Linked DNA regions of Homo sapiens. The protein of the gene in region 4 purifies or fractionates together with the protein of the main gene of each other region. This does not show direct contact. Each region holds a gene or a part of one and is shown on either strand. Other genes may lie near its edges.

What was found. Proteins that work in one complex are often made in the same cells at the same time.
Region 1: the proteins of RAI14 (region 4) and CCDC61 purify together in Homo sapiens (tandem affinity purification; one study listed by IntAct). This does not show direct contact.
Region 2: the proteins of RAI14 (region 4) and FMNL2 purify together in Homo sapiens (affinity purification with western blotting, with the first as the bait; one study listed by BioGRID). This does not show direct contact.
Region 3: the proteins of RAI14 (region 4) and MAP3K3 purify together in Homo sapiens (tandem affinity purification; one large-scale study listed by IntAct). This does not show direct contact.

Annotation. Positions count from the first base shown.
Region 1 is NC_000019.10:46,001,967-46,005,466, forward strand, and holds part of CCDC61 (centrosomal protein CCDC61), read left to right. Parts: intron 1-1,041; 5' UTR 1,042-1,052; coding exon 1,053-1,200; intron 1,201-1,452; coding exon 1,453-1,535; intron 1,536-3,500. UniProt on the Homo sapiens protein: Microtubule-binding centrosomal protein required for centriole cohesion, independently of the centrosome-associated protein/CEP250 and rootletin/CROCC linker.
Region 2 is NC_000002.12:152,628,674-152,632,173, reverse strand, and holds part of FMNL2 (formin-like protein 2), read right to left. Parts: intron 2,519-3,500; coding exon 2,450-2,518; intron 2,350-2,449; coding exon 2,269-2,349; intron 167-2,268; coding exon 37-166; intron 1-36. UniProt on the Homo sapiens protein: Plays a role in the regulation of cell morphology and cytoskeletal organization. Required in the cortical actin filament dynamics.
Region 3 is NC_000017.11:63,635,917-63,639,416, forward strand, and holds part of MAP3K3 (mitogen-activated protein kinase kinase kinase 3), read left to right. Parts: intron 1-3,500. UniProt on the Homo sapiens protein: Component of a protein kinase signal transduction cascade. Mediates activation of the NF-kappa-B, AP1 and DDIT3 transcriptional regulators.
Region 4 is NC_000005.10:34,827,328-34,830,219, reverse strand, and holds part of RAI14 (ankycorbin), read right to left. Parts: intron 489-2,892; coding exon 423-488; intron 1-422. UniProt on the Homo sapiens protein: Plays a role in actin regulation at the ectoplasmic specialization, a type of cell junction specific to testis. Important for establishment of sperm polarity and normal spermatid adhesion.

The DNA of each region.
Region 1 (3,500 bases), on a different chromosome or scaffold from region 4:
TGGAGTCTCCCCCTGTCGCCAGGCTGGAGTGCAGTGGCACCATCTCAGCTCACTGCAACCTCTGCCTCCTGGCTTCAAGCGATTCTCCTGCCTCAGCCTCCGGAGTAGCTGGGATTACAGGCACGGGGCACCACACCTGGCTAATTTTTTTGTATTTTTAGTAGAGATGGGGTTTCACCATTGTTGGCCAGGCTGGTCTGGAACTCCTGACCTCATGATCCACCTGCCTCGCCTCCCAAAGTGCTGGGATTACAGGCATGAGCCACCGCACCTGGCCTGCTCTGACCCCCTTTTAAAAGCTTGGCTCATCCTACTCCAATACCCCCGTCCCTCTTTCCAGCTTGACTTTTCTCCACAAATGTTTGCTGAATGAATGAATGAATAATAATAAATATATAATGAGTATAAGACTTAATAAATTAATACTAATATTAATCATGATTCTTTTTTTGGCCATCATGTATTTCTTTTCTTTCTTTTTTTTTTTTAACTGAGTCAGGGTCTCACTCTGTCACCCAGACTGGAGTGCAGTGGCAAGATCACAGCTCACTGCAAGCTCTGCCTCCAGCCTCCCGAGTAGCTGGGACCACAGGCATGCACCACCACACCTGGCAATTTTTTTGTATTTTTAGTAGAGGTGGGGTTTCACCACATTGCCCAGGCTGGTCTTGAACTCTTGAGCTCAAGTGATCCTCCTGCCTCAGCCTCCCAAAGTGCTGGGATAACAGTTGTCAGCCACCGCGCCCGGCTTGGCAATCATGAATTTCTAGTATCCAGCACATATTGGACACAGCCTCCAGGTCACAGTACCAAGTACTTTTATACATATTGCCCAATGTAATCCTCACAACAAGTCCACGAGGTTGGTGCCATTATTATACCCATTTTCCAGATGAGGAAACTAAGGCACAGAGAGGTGAATTCGCTTTCCCAGGATGCCACAGCTGGTAAATGATGGAGCCAGGATATGAGGCCTGGCCTTCCAACTCATGAGCCTGGGCTCTGAGCTCCTCTAGGTTTCTCTCTCATCTCCTTCTCCAGCAACCTTGGCCATGGACCAGCCGGCTGGCCTGCAGGTGGACTACGTCTTCCGGGGTGTGGAGCATGCCGTGCGGGTGATGGTTTCTGGGCAGGTGCTGGAGCTGGAGGTGGAGGACCGGATGACGGCTGACCAGTGGCGGGGCGAGTTCGATGCTGGCTGTGAGTGTGCCTGCCTGGGGTGGGCTCACCTTTCCTCTCCTGGGATCAGCTTCTCCCAGAATATCAGGCCACCCTGAATCCTGCCCACCTGCCTCTTCTTTGTCACCAGAAACTCTCCAGTGTGGGGAGGGGTGTAGGTCTTGTTGCTCAAGCCAGAGACACTGGAGTCGGGTAGAATTGCAGAGCTTAGGTGCATTGCCCTGGGGCTGGGCAAGCGGTCAGACCTCAGGAGAGACTTTTCTCCCCACCCAGTCATTGAAGATTTGACTCACAAGACAGGGAACTTCAAACAGTTCAACATCTTCTGTCATATGCTGGAGTCAGCCCTCACTCAGGTAGGGCCCGGGTTGGCGGGTTGGGGTGGGAGGGGGGTTCTGTCTTCCAGGTTCCAGGGGGGTTGATGCCCATCTGATGTATGTAAGACCCTCTACCTTCTCTTTCATTGTGGGAAGAGGGCGATCATTTTCTTCTTTTGCCAAGTGTAAATGCTTCATTTTGAACTTAATGATAGTTATTCTCATGTAGAAAATTTAGGTCACAGAGAAATATAAAGAAGAAAGTAAAAATCACTCCAGCCCTAATACTCGCTTCTGTTAATATTTTGGTGAAAATCACTCCAGTCCTTTCTCCATGTCTCTGTTTGTTTCCAAATACGTGTGTGTGTGTGTGTGTGTGTGTGTGTGTGTGTGTGTGTGTATGCATTTGCAGATCTGTAATTATATATAGTTTATATAATTTCCAAGGTATTCTGCAACCTGCTTTTTTTGGTTTGTTTGTTTATTTTTTTTTTGAGATGGAGTCTCGCTCTGTCGCCCAGGCTGGAGTGCAGTGGCACCATCTCAGCTCACTGCAACCTCCGCCTCCCAGGTTCAAGCGATTCTCCTGCCTCAGCCTCCTGAGTAGCTGGGATTACAGGCGCACGCCACCATGCCCGGCTAATTTTTTGTATTTTTAGTAGAGACGGGGTTTCATCATGTTGACTAGGCTGGTGTGGAGCTCCGGACATCAGGTGATCCACCCGCCTCTGCCTCCCAGAGTGCTGGGATTACAGACGTGAACCACTGCGCCCAGCCTGCAACTTGCTTTTAAAGGATTCAGCAATATCTCATAAAAATGTAGTCACATCAGTGAATATAGCCATTCATTCATTTCATTTGCTGAGCATTGACAGTGTGTCAGTCATTGTGGGGGACACTGGCGATACAGCAGTGAACAACAGACAAAACCCCTGTCCTCATGAGGCTGACATTTTGGAGAGACAGACAAATGAAAAAATACATAATGTCAGGTATTTAAAAGTTTTTGTTTGTTTGTTTGAGATGGAATCTCACTCTGTCTCCCAGGCTGGAGTGCAGTGGCGTGATCTCAACTCACTGCAATCTCTGCCTCCTGGGTTCAAGCAATTCTCCTGCCTCAGCCTCCCGAGTAGCTGGGACTACAGGCGTGTGCCGCCACACCCGGCTAATTTTTGTATTTTTAGTAGAGATGGGGTTTCACTGTATTGGCCAGGCTGGTCTTGAATACCTGATCTCAAGTAATCCTCCTGCCTTGGCTTCCCAAAGTGTTGCAATTACAAGCGTGAGCCACCGTGCCCAGCCTAAAAGTAATAATCAGGGGGAAGAAGCAGGTTAGAACTTAGAGTGACAGGGATGGGTGGTATTTAGATATCTTTTTTTTTTTTTTTTTTTTTTTTTTGAGACAAGAGTTTTGCTCGGTTGCCCAGGCTTAGTGGCACAGTCTCAGCTCACTGCAACCTCCGCGTCTCGGGTTCAAGTGATTCTCATGCCTCAGCCTCCCAAGTAGCTGGGACTACAGGCCTGCCCACCATGCCCAGCTAATTTTTGTATTTATTTATTTATTTTTTTTGAGATACTATCTGTGTAGCCCAGGCTGGAGTGCAGTGGCATGATATTGGCTCACTGCAACCTCCGCCTCCCGATTTCAAGCAATTCTCCTATTTCAGCCTCCCGAGTAGCTGGAATTACAGGCATGCGCCATCATGCCCGGCTAATTTTGTATTTTTAGTAGAGACGGGGTTTTGCCATCTTGGCCAGGCTGGTCTTGAATTCCTGGCCTCAAGTGATCCACCTGCCTCGGCCTCCCAAAGTGCTGGGATTACAGGTGTGAGCCACCGCGCCTGGCCTGGACAAGCGATAGTTTCTTAAAGGTTAGTTGCAATGTGGAATCTGCATCCTCATCAGTGAACTTTTTGTATTGTTACATTAAATTCCACTGACTTATCTTGCATTTTGTATGGATATTTTTTTACCTGTGGATGATCTTGTAACATCATGCATTGG
Region 2 (3,500 bases), on a different chromosome or scaffold from region 4:
TACCCAAGACGAACGGTAATAGCTGAAATCAAGTACCTGCAGCAGCTTTTTCCACATAATGAAGCTCATTATAAAACAGGGACACTTGGTGATATTTTTCTTTCACCACATTGGATATATAGTGCAACAGTGTTTGCTTTCTGTCTGTTGACTTTGTATCTAAGAGCTGAAAACAAAAGGGAACGTGGGTTAGGTACAAGAGTAAAGGGTAACAAGACACTTACCCCTCAGGTGACGATTTCCCACCCAGAGTCATTAACTGAGTAACAGTCGCCCAACAGGCTGGAGCATTCCCAGAGGAGGGTCAGGATTCCATTTGTTCCTTAGTGAACCAGTCCATTGATGCTTAACTGGCTCAAGGACTTTCCAACCAGGGCACATGCTTAACTATAGGGATGACTCTAAGCACCTAAGAATGATTCGCAGCTTTCCTCTACAGTAGTTCCTATTTACCCACAGGTTTACTTCCCATGGTTTCAGGAAACCCACAGGTTTCAGGTATCCAAAAATACTAAGTGGAAAATTCCAGAAATAAACAATTCATCAGATTTGAATTGCGCACCACTCTGAGCAGCATGATAAAACCTCGCACGTGCCATTCCCATCCACCCTAGACCGAGAATCACCCCTTTGTCAAGTGGATCCACGCTGTAATCATTACCTGCCATTAATCACTTAGTAGCCATCTGGGTTATCAGGTTAACTGCCGCCTATTGCAGTGTTTGTGTTCAAGTAACGTGTTTTATTTAACTGCTCTATTTTTTTTTTTTTTTTTTTTTTTGAGATGGAGTCTCGTTCTGTCGCCCAGGGTGGAGTGCAGTGGCACAATCTTGGCTCACTACAAACTCCACCTCCTGCGTTCAAGCGATTCTCCTGCCTCAGCCTCCCGAGTAGCTGGGATTACAGGTGCCTGTGACCCAAAAATTAGCCCAGCTAATTTTCCTATTTTTAGTAGAGACAGGGTTTCGCCATGTTGGCCAGGCTGCTCTCAAACTCCTGACCTCAGGTGATCCTCCCGCCTCAGCCTCCCAAAGTGCTGGGATTACAGGTGTGAGCCACCAGGCCTGGCCTATTTTATTTTTTAGTTATTGTGAATCTCTCACTGTGCCTAATTTATAAATTCAACTTTATAACAGATATGCATCTCTAGAAAAAAAACAGTGTATATATAGGATTCAGTACTATCTGAGGTTTCAGGCATCCACTGGGGGTCTTGGATCACAGCCCCCATGGATAAGGGGGACACTGATTACATGAACTCTCCCAGCCCTGCATCTGCTATCCCACCTTCCTTGCCTTAAAAGCAGGACGGCTCTAATTTTAGTGCTCTTCAAAGTAAAAAGCCAGAGGAGAAATGGGGATGTACAGCCAGCAGGTGCATGCAGGTGCCTCCTACACAGCAGGGCTCCTATGCTCCAGTTTTTACATTTAGCTTAGGCCCTCCCTTATTTCCTAGCCTGTGAAGACCTGAAACAGACATGCTTAACTGATCATGATCTGCTGGAGGCCAGAACTGTGACTGACTAGACACTCCATATTAAATAACTAGCTCCCTGGTCGGGGGACTCAACCCACTGCCCAGCCTTCTCATGTGACAATCACGTTAGGCCTGCACAGTCTGGAGGGAGTCCACGGAGGATTTTCTCTAGTCTTATTCACATTAGTTAGGTGACTCTGAAAATTAGAGCACCCTGCATGCAACAACAACAACAAAAATTTAAGAAAATATAGAAAAGTACTTACAAAAAGCAGTTTGAAAAAATTTCCTGATTCCATCCAACCTCTGCTAATATTTTAACCTATTTCCATTCAGTCTTTCTCCCCACATAGTTTACTTAGCTGAGATTCAACTGTACATGCAAAGCATACCCTGCTTTCTTTTCTAAACACAAATCTTTCTTGGGACACTCTTCATCAGTATGCTAACGGTGGAAGAATAATAGTTCACTGTATTAACTAGTGTTACAGCACATTTAATCATTCCCACAGTTAGACCTTTAGATTGTTAATTTGCAATTATAAATAAAATACAGGATTCAAAATTCAGACACTTGAGAAAAAATTCCTAGAAATGGAAATACTGAGTCAAAGGGTATGAGTAATTATAGGTTCTATGTGCTCTCTGTCAAATGGTGTTCCAGAAAATTAGTACCAGTTGATCCTCCCATAGCAGAAAATATTCATCAAAACATCCTCCACCACCCTAACTTCATCTCTGCCAGCCATCTGTCCTTCAAACAGCTCTCAAATTTCTTTTAGTCCACTCACCAGATCTAAACTCTGAAGTTTAAATCCATAAACTGCTCCTCTTTTACTGCTATTCATGTAGTTTCCAAGGGCTAAGATGATCTGCAAAAGAAGGTGAAAACAGAAGCCCATCAGTACAGCACATCAGGCACTGAACGCAGCTGAAGTAGTCCTTCATACCTACAAGAAAAACTGCACTTGCCTCCAGAATTTTCTTGAGTTTTTGGGACGACTTTATAGAGACAGATGCTGCTATAATCGCATGTAGTTGCTAGATTCCAATCAAAGAAAGAAAAAGGGGAAAAAAGACATGTTAAAAATGGGAAACTAATTGGCAAGTAAATATTAAGACAGAAGAAAACAGGCCTGCATTTAGAGCATACAGGCTTCATGGTGAGAGTCTACTTTTTCTAAGTATAACAAATTTAATTGTCTTGCTAGGTCTCAGGTAATATTGTTACATGCACGATCTTTACTGAAACTGTTCACAATAGCAAGTAACATAGGAACTTGCTTATCACAAAATCTGTAACCAATCTACAACCACTAAGACTCAGAGTTAAGAGTCCACAGCTGCTTCTGGTAGAACTCAATTTCCTGCCTACCACCTCTAATCATGTCATACAATTAATATTTTTAAATCAATGAAGGAGGCATCAAAAATGAAAAAAAAGGGAGGGGAATATAACACCCTCCAGAAGTTCTCAGAACATGTTTTCAACAGACATACTACTATAAGCAGAAACCAACAAATTTATCTAGAAACAGAATTGGGAAAGAACTGACTACTATAATCAGTAACAAAGTCTATTTAGAAACAGAATTGGGAGAGAACTGAAGTTTATGATATTCATAAATCTCCACCAGATTAACACAAGGGAATGAGAGATGGTTGGCTATTATGTCTATATCACCACAGTTTATTATAACAAACTTCCAAGAAAGAAAACTCTTATGGTAAATATAAAGCTTTCAGCAAAAGCTTGTAAGTCTGCTCACTAAAGATGAGGCAACATTTTTAGAAATGAAAGTCTTATTTTCAGTCTTGCCAACACTGCCAGAAGACTAGTATCTTCAGAGAGGAACCAAGTTTGAGAAAAGAACCAAGTTTCTTTGTCCCCTGTCCTTTTGAAATCTAGAGAACATCTGTAGACACAAAAAATGGCATTCTTTCGGAAGAATGGCAATATGGAATATGAACATTCCCCATTTTTCAAATTTACTTTGCATACATAATGTGGAAAAGATGGTTG
Region 3 (3,500 bases), on a different chromosome or scaffold from region 4:
CAGTTGAAAGAAGCTAAGCATTTTGGCTAGCTGGAAAGGTTGTTTATTCAAGGGTGGAATGGGGCTGGCAGAGGCAAACAGCCTTTCACTATGAGAATGGCAGTGCTGGCTACAAGGCAGAGTCGAGACTGGCACAGCTTCATGGAGCTCAAGCTTGGCCCAGCAAGGAAAGCCAGAGGAGCTGTGGGTTCATTAACAGGATTGTTTGGGTGCCGAGGCCTGGAAGAACTGAAAAATCTAATTTAATATCTCTGCTTAGCAAGACTTGAGACATCCTTTTCCCTAAGTAAACAAGCTTGGTAAGTAATTGAAAAAGAGAATGGATTTGAGAACAAATAGGCAGCTATGGAAGTACATGGGCAGTGAGCTATTAACAATTTTCTAGGAGGTAGATTCTGTATTCTCTGTATTCTAGGAGTACAGAGAATACTGTACACTAGGAGCATTTGCTGTATTCTCCCTTTTGTATATTGGGTCTCTGGAAGCCTACAGCGTGGTTAGAGCTGACTGAATATTCTTAGATGTGTGGCACATCCTACGTGTGGCTGGGTCCTATGGATAGTTTTGCAGGCCATGATGTGCAGTGTCCCTTTAGCAGTCATTAACTCACAGTGAGTTATCAATGGGTGTTAGTTCTCTGTGGGTCTGACAACTTAGTATAGTGAAAAGAGTGCTGGCCTGTGGCTGAACATGCTGGAGAAGAGCTTGCCTGGCCACAGGGACACAGCCACGCAGATCCAGCATGTGTCTCCCATGTGCCAAGTGGAGCCCCCAGCCAAGAAGGCAGCCACACTAGCAGAGGGTGACAAGGACAATGACATTGACCTGTTTGTCAGCGACAATGAGGAGGAAGACAAGGAGGCAGCCCGGCTGTGGGAGAAGTGGCTGAGGTGGTATGTGGAGAAGAAGGCCAAGAAGACTGCGTTGGTGGTCAAGTCCTCCATCCCGCTGGACATCAAGCCTTGGGACAATGAGACCAATATAGCCCAATTGGAGGCCTGTATGCGCTTCATCCAGCTGGACGGGCTGGTCTAGGGGGGCCTCCAAGCTGGTGCCCATGGGCTACGGTATCCGGAAGCTGCAGATTCAGTGTGTGGTGGGGGACGACAAGGTGGGGACAAACTTTCTGGAAGAGGAGATTACCAAGTTTGAGAGCGTGTGTAGAGTGTCGATGTTGCAGCTTTCAACAAGGTCTGAAGCCTTAGAGTGTGTGTGCGTGCATGCGCACGTGTGCAAGTGTGTGAGGCCCTGCCACTATTAAAAACTGAGACCAACCAAAAAAAAAAAAAAAAAAAGAGTACTGGCCTAGGAGTCATAGAGTTGTTACTCATCTATTAATGTAGGATTTTATAATTTATAGAGTGCTTTCAACAACAGTTAACATCAATGCTATAAGCATGTGTATAAGGTTTACACAGCTTTTACACAAAGGTATTGAGTAGAGGCAGGAAGTAAATCCAAGCCTTCTGATTCCTAGTCACCGTAATTTTACCATGTATAAGTCATATAACCTTTCTGAAGTGAGTTTTTCCATCTGAAATATAGACTTAATACTCACTGTGTCTACCTCTTAAGATTGTTGTAAGATCATAGACAGAATGTGAAATATTTTGTACATTGTAAAACAAATGTACAAATGTGAAGTTGCAGTGGTTATGTCACTTCTTATGTTCTGGCACTGCAGGTGTGAGCTTTGGGGAAAGCTTCTAACTACAACTGTCCATAGTGTTGTGGAACTGAAAGGATTAAGGTTTTTCTCTCTTTATGGGATTATCATTACTGTTTATCTGATGATCTTTGCAAATTTCTGAAGCTAGCCTAATTTCTGAAAATCCCAGTGGAGGAAGAAATGGAATCCTTATTTCCATGGATTCCTGTTTCCCTTGAATCTTATCAAAATGGTAGGTAGATACTTGAACAGAGTCTGGGCTCTGGATCTAACCCTCCAGATGTTCATGAGTGGGTGCTTCAGAACAGAAAAGCTGCTTTCTTCATGATAGGCACAAGCAGGGCAGGGCCTTGGCTATCATTTCTAGAGGAAGAGAATTCCAGGATCTGTTCCCCCAGCAGGGTCAGTGATTGAGCAGACTGTCTTTTGCTTTCAGTGTGAAAGACCTGGCTCTTCAGGACCTCCCTTCTCTTTCAAGGGTTGTTGATAAGATGGGCTGGCCAGTTTGAAAATAAGATATAAAACAACACACAAGCCTGGCATTATATTTTGTAAGAAGATTGCTTTATAATCGTCTCTTCCACTGATCTCCTACAACTTTCCAGAGTCATGCTTAAAAATAAAATTTTAATTTTTGTTGTATTTTTTTTTCCTTTCATTCACTTACTCTCTTTGGCAAAATAAGGACTGCAATTCCAGAAATGTGGGGAGGCATCAAAGGTATGTAGCAAATGCAGGGAGAGAAATCAGTACAGAATCAGAGCGAGGATAAGAAGAATGATGGGTAACTGAGGCCTTTTTCAGGTCAAGTTAGTTCATAAACCTTTGGTTAATAAATCCTGATTTTTCTGGATTCTTGAAAGCTTTTTGGGCTACATGTTCAGCTGTTGAGTCCAGACTTTGAGAAGGTCATTTCTGCTTTAGTGTTATTGTCAGTTATTCCTGTTGCTCCTGCTGAGTCCCTGAATCTGTAGCTCAACCCGACAGCCCGCACTGTCTCTCTCCTGAGCGTGGCTGTCACTACTGCTCTCACCGGATTGCCTGTGGTGGGGAGGGGACATGAAGCTGCTTAGACCTGAATTTCTGTACTAGAACTTTTTTCTCAGTAGCTGACACCTCCATTCAGTTTAACATGTGCCTATGGTCACGCTTCTCAGACACACAAAAGAAATGTATGTCGGTCAGGAGTGGTGGCTCATGCCTGTAACCCCAACACTTTGGGAGGCCGAGGCAGGCGGATCACCTGGCCTGGCCAACGTGGTGAAACCCTGTCTGTACAAAAATACAAAAATTAGCTGGGCATGATGATAGGTGCTTGTAATCCCAGCTACTTGGGAGGCTGAGGTGGGAGAATCGCTTGTACTTGGGAGGCGGAGGTTGTAGTGAGCCGAGATCACTGCACTCCAGCCTGGGCGACAGAGCAAGACTCCATCTCAGAAAAAAAAGAAAAAAGAAAGGTATGTCATATTCCCTGTACCCCAGGAATCATGCAGTCTTACTGGGAAGTGAGGACTACATGAAAAAAAGAAAGTATGATATGACTATGCCTCACTGTGTGGTACAGAGAGTAAGTGCTATAGAAGGCCAGGAAAATGAAAGATGAGCCTGGGCCAGAGGAGCTATGGAGTCATTTCAGGTGGAAGGGCACTTGAACTAGGCTGTGAAGGAAGTATAAACAGTTAGGTAGAACGGAGGAAGGGTGGCACTCCAGGTCAGGAAACAGAATGATTAAAGGCCTAGGGGAAGAAGCAAACATGGCTTGTATCAGGAAACAAGGTGAGCTTTGATCTGGCTTTAAAGGGGGGTCCCTGTGGGGAACAAACAGTGTGAG
Region 4 (2,892 bases):
TTGAGCTCAGGAGTTTGAGACCAGCCTGGGCAACATGGCAAAGCCCCATCTCTACAAAAATACAAAAATTTGCCAGGTACGGTGGTGGGTACCTGTAATCCCACCTACTTGGGAGGCTAAGGTGGGAGGATCACTTGAGCCCGTGGGTCGAGGCTGCAGTGAGGCGAGATTATGCCATTACACTCCAGCCTGCATGACAGAGTGAGGCCCTGCTTTAAAAGATGGGGCTGTTCCTGGTAAACAGGGCACAAGGCTCCTGACACAGAATCCAAAGCAATGCAAAAGGCATATTCAGGCTTTCCAGTGAAAAGGATTCTCCTCTAATTCTTGTTCATTCTCCTAGTTAAATGATGGGAGTTCTGTCAACATCTGCTGCCGTATTTCTTTAGGATGTCCAGATACTTCAAGGGGCATAACCATACCTGCACAGCATACAGAAGATGCATTCTGTAAACTGATATGACCTCCTGGTGTTGTTTCTTGCATTCCTAGAAAGGGAATATTTCACATTATTAATGAGCTTAAGAGATCTTTAAAGAACAAAAACAAAAAACTATGAGAAAGCTGCAGCCAAATGCTACCCAAGTGGTCCCCTCCACTTTATGCTAGCACTGGAAGCTTCTAAAATTGTTGTGGCCTTACTGGCTTGTGTATTTCTGAATACTTGTCAATCATCTTAGGGAAAAAAGTCTTGGTATGTCAACTCTAGAAAAAACTGTATAAAAAGGAGTTATTATCACCCCACATTTGGTTTTAAAAATATATGCTCTTTGGGCGGCTGAGGTGGGTGGATCACTTGAGGTCAGGAGTTTGAGACCAGCCTGGACAACATGGTGAAACCCCGTCTCTACTAAAAATACAAAAATTAGCCAGGCGTAGTAGTCAGTACCTGTAATCCCAGCTACTCAGGAGGCTGAGGCAAGAGAATCGCTTGAACCTAGGAGGCAGAGGTTGTAGTGAGCCGAGATCACGCCACTGCACTCCAGCGTGGGTGACAGAGCAAAACTCTGTCTCAAAATATATATATATATGTGTGTGTGTATGTGTGTGTGTGTGTATGTGTGTCTATATATGTGTGTATATATGTATATATGTGTGTGTATATATGTACATATACTTATGCAAATACAGCTACATTAAATGTAAATACTGCAAGGAAATATATCAAATGTAAAAAGTGATTATCTCAGAGTTATTGAATTATGGAAAATTTTTATTTATAGGAACTTGTTAGAGTTTTCTTTATTTTTCAACTTTTCTACAATGACCAAATATGTACTAATTTAATTTTTAAAGCCTATTATTTTTAAGGGAATTATTGATTACCCACTATATGGCCAGCATTGTATAATCCTTGGGGAGCTCAATTATTTAGCTATCAGTGTACTAAGAAGGCAAAGAGGGTGGTGGCCCCAATCTCCAGTGGTTCCTCAATACAGCCGCTGATGCTTCTATTTCTCCTTGTTGAGCTATTACTCCAGTTCCTCTCAGTGGCTGTTTCAAGGGTCTTATCTCTGAAACTCTTGTTCTAAGAACCTGTCCTCCTAATTCATCATGAAAATTGAGACCATCATATATGGATTACTTCAAAAATGTACAAAAGTCCATAATACCCATTCTTCCTTCCCCCCATCAGTGTCAGAGTATGAGGTATCTTTCCTGTTATTAAGGGACATTTTAAAACCCGTCCTTTAAGTTCACATCATAAGAAGGCACATTTGGCATTTCTCTGTGTTGTTCCCTCCCCACCTTTCAGCAACCTCTACTCAATTATTTATGATTTTATCTTCTGATCTGGCTTCCTTTCTATCACTGCCTCTGTCATCATTCGCTTGGCTTTGATATCTGTGTGAATGATCCATCTAACACCTGGACCTCTCAGTTCCTCAACTTCAGCTTTAATAACATGCTCCTCTTCAGTTCAGCAACTCCTGTCATGGTTGTAGCCCTGCCTCTATCATTACCACCTCTGAAATCTCAACTGAAAGCATCCCACACCCTAACCACCACTTCCCATCTTTCCAGCAAGCTTGCTTCAGGCTTCCCCCAACCCCTACTGCGACTGGTTAGCCCCACCAGATACCTATCTACTTACTTACTTCTCTAGCAGCCAGTCTACTGCGGTCCAGATTCTACCCTCCTCCCCACTCCACTGGAATGGTTCTCACCAAGGTTCCCAAAAGCCAGCTAGTGCCATATGTCAGTCCTTGCTAAGTAACAACATATTCTTACTCAGGCCTTCAAGACTCAGCACAAGTGTAACTCCCGTAGGAACCTTTTCATGACTCAGCAAGATTGGGTAGACACATTTCCTTTGTATGCCCACGGTATGCTGGGCATCTCTTTGCTGATAACTTATATAGAGTATAAACTCCTTGAGGGCAGGGACTGAGTCTTACTCATTTTATATCATCAGCCCCATGTATAATACTGATGTAAGAGCTCAACAAACACATGTTGCGTAATTATAAGAATTACTGTATAAACCAATAGCACTTTATCTACAAGTCTGTAATACCATTTTATCAGGAGAAGAATGACCTGCAGAACACAGTAAAGAGCAGCTTCTCCTAAGTATCCACCATTTCTAGAGCTGTTTCCTCCAAAGCTAGCATTGAACTTTGTGGCCAGCCAGAGTAAGGACTGCAGAAACCTGAATTCACTACAGTTAGGTCTATTCCGAAGAAATCATCAAATCCATGTTCTGTTTGTATATGGAAGCTAGAGACAGTCCAGGACAGACTAACCCTGGACTTTAGGTAGAAAACGGAATGTACCCATGCCAACTCAAACCTTAACAGATATTGTGGTAAGCTAAATAATGGCTCTTGAAAGATGTCCACATCCTAATCCCCAGAACCTGTGAATGTTAAACTTTATATGGCAAAAGGC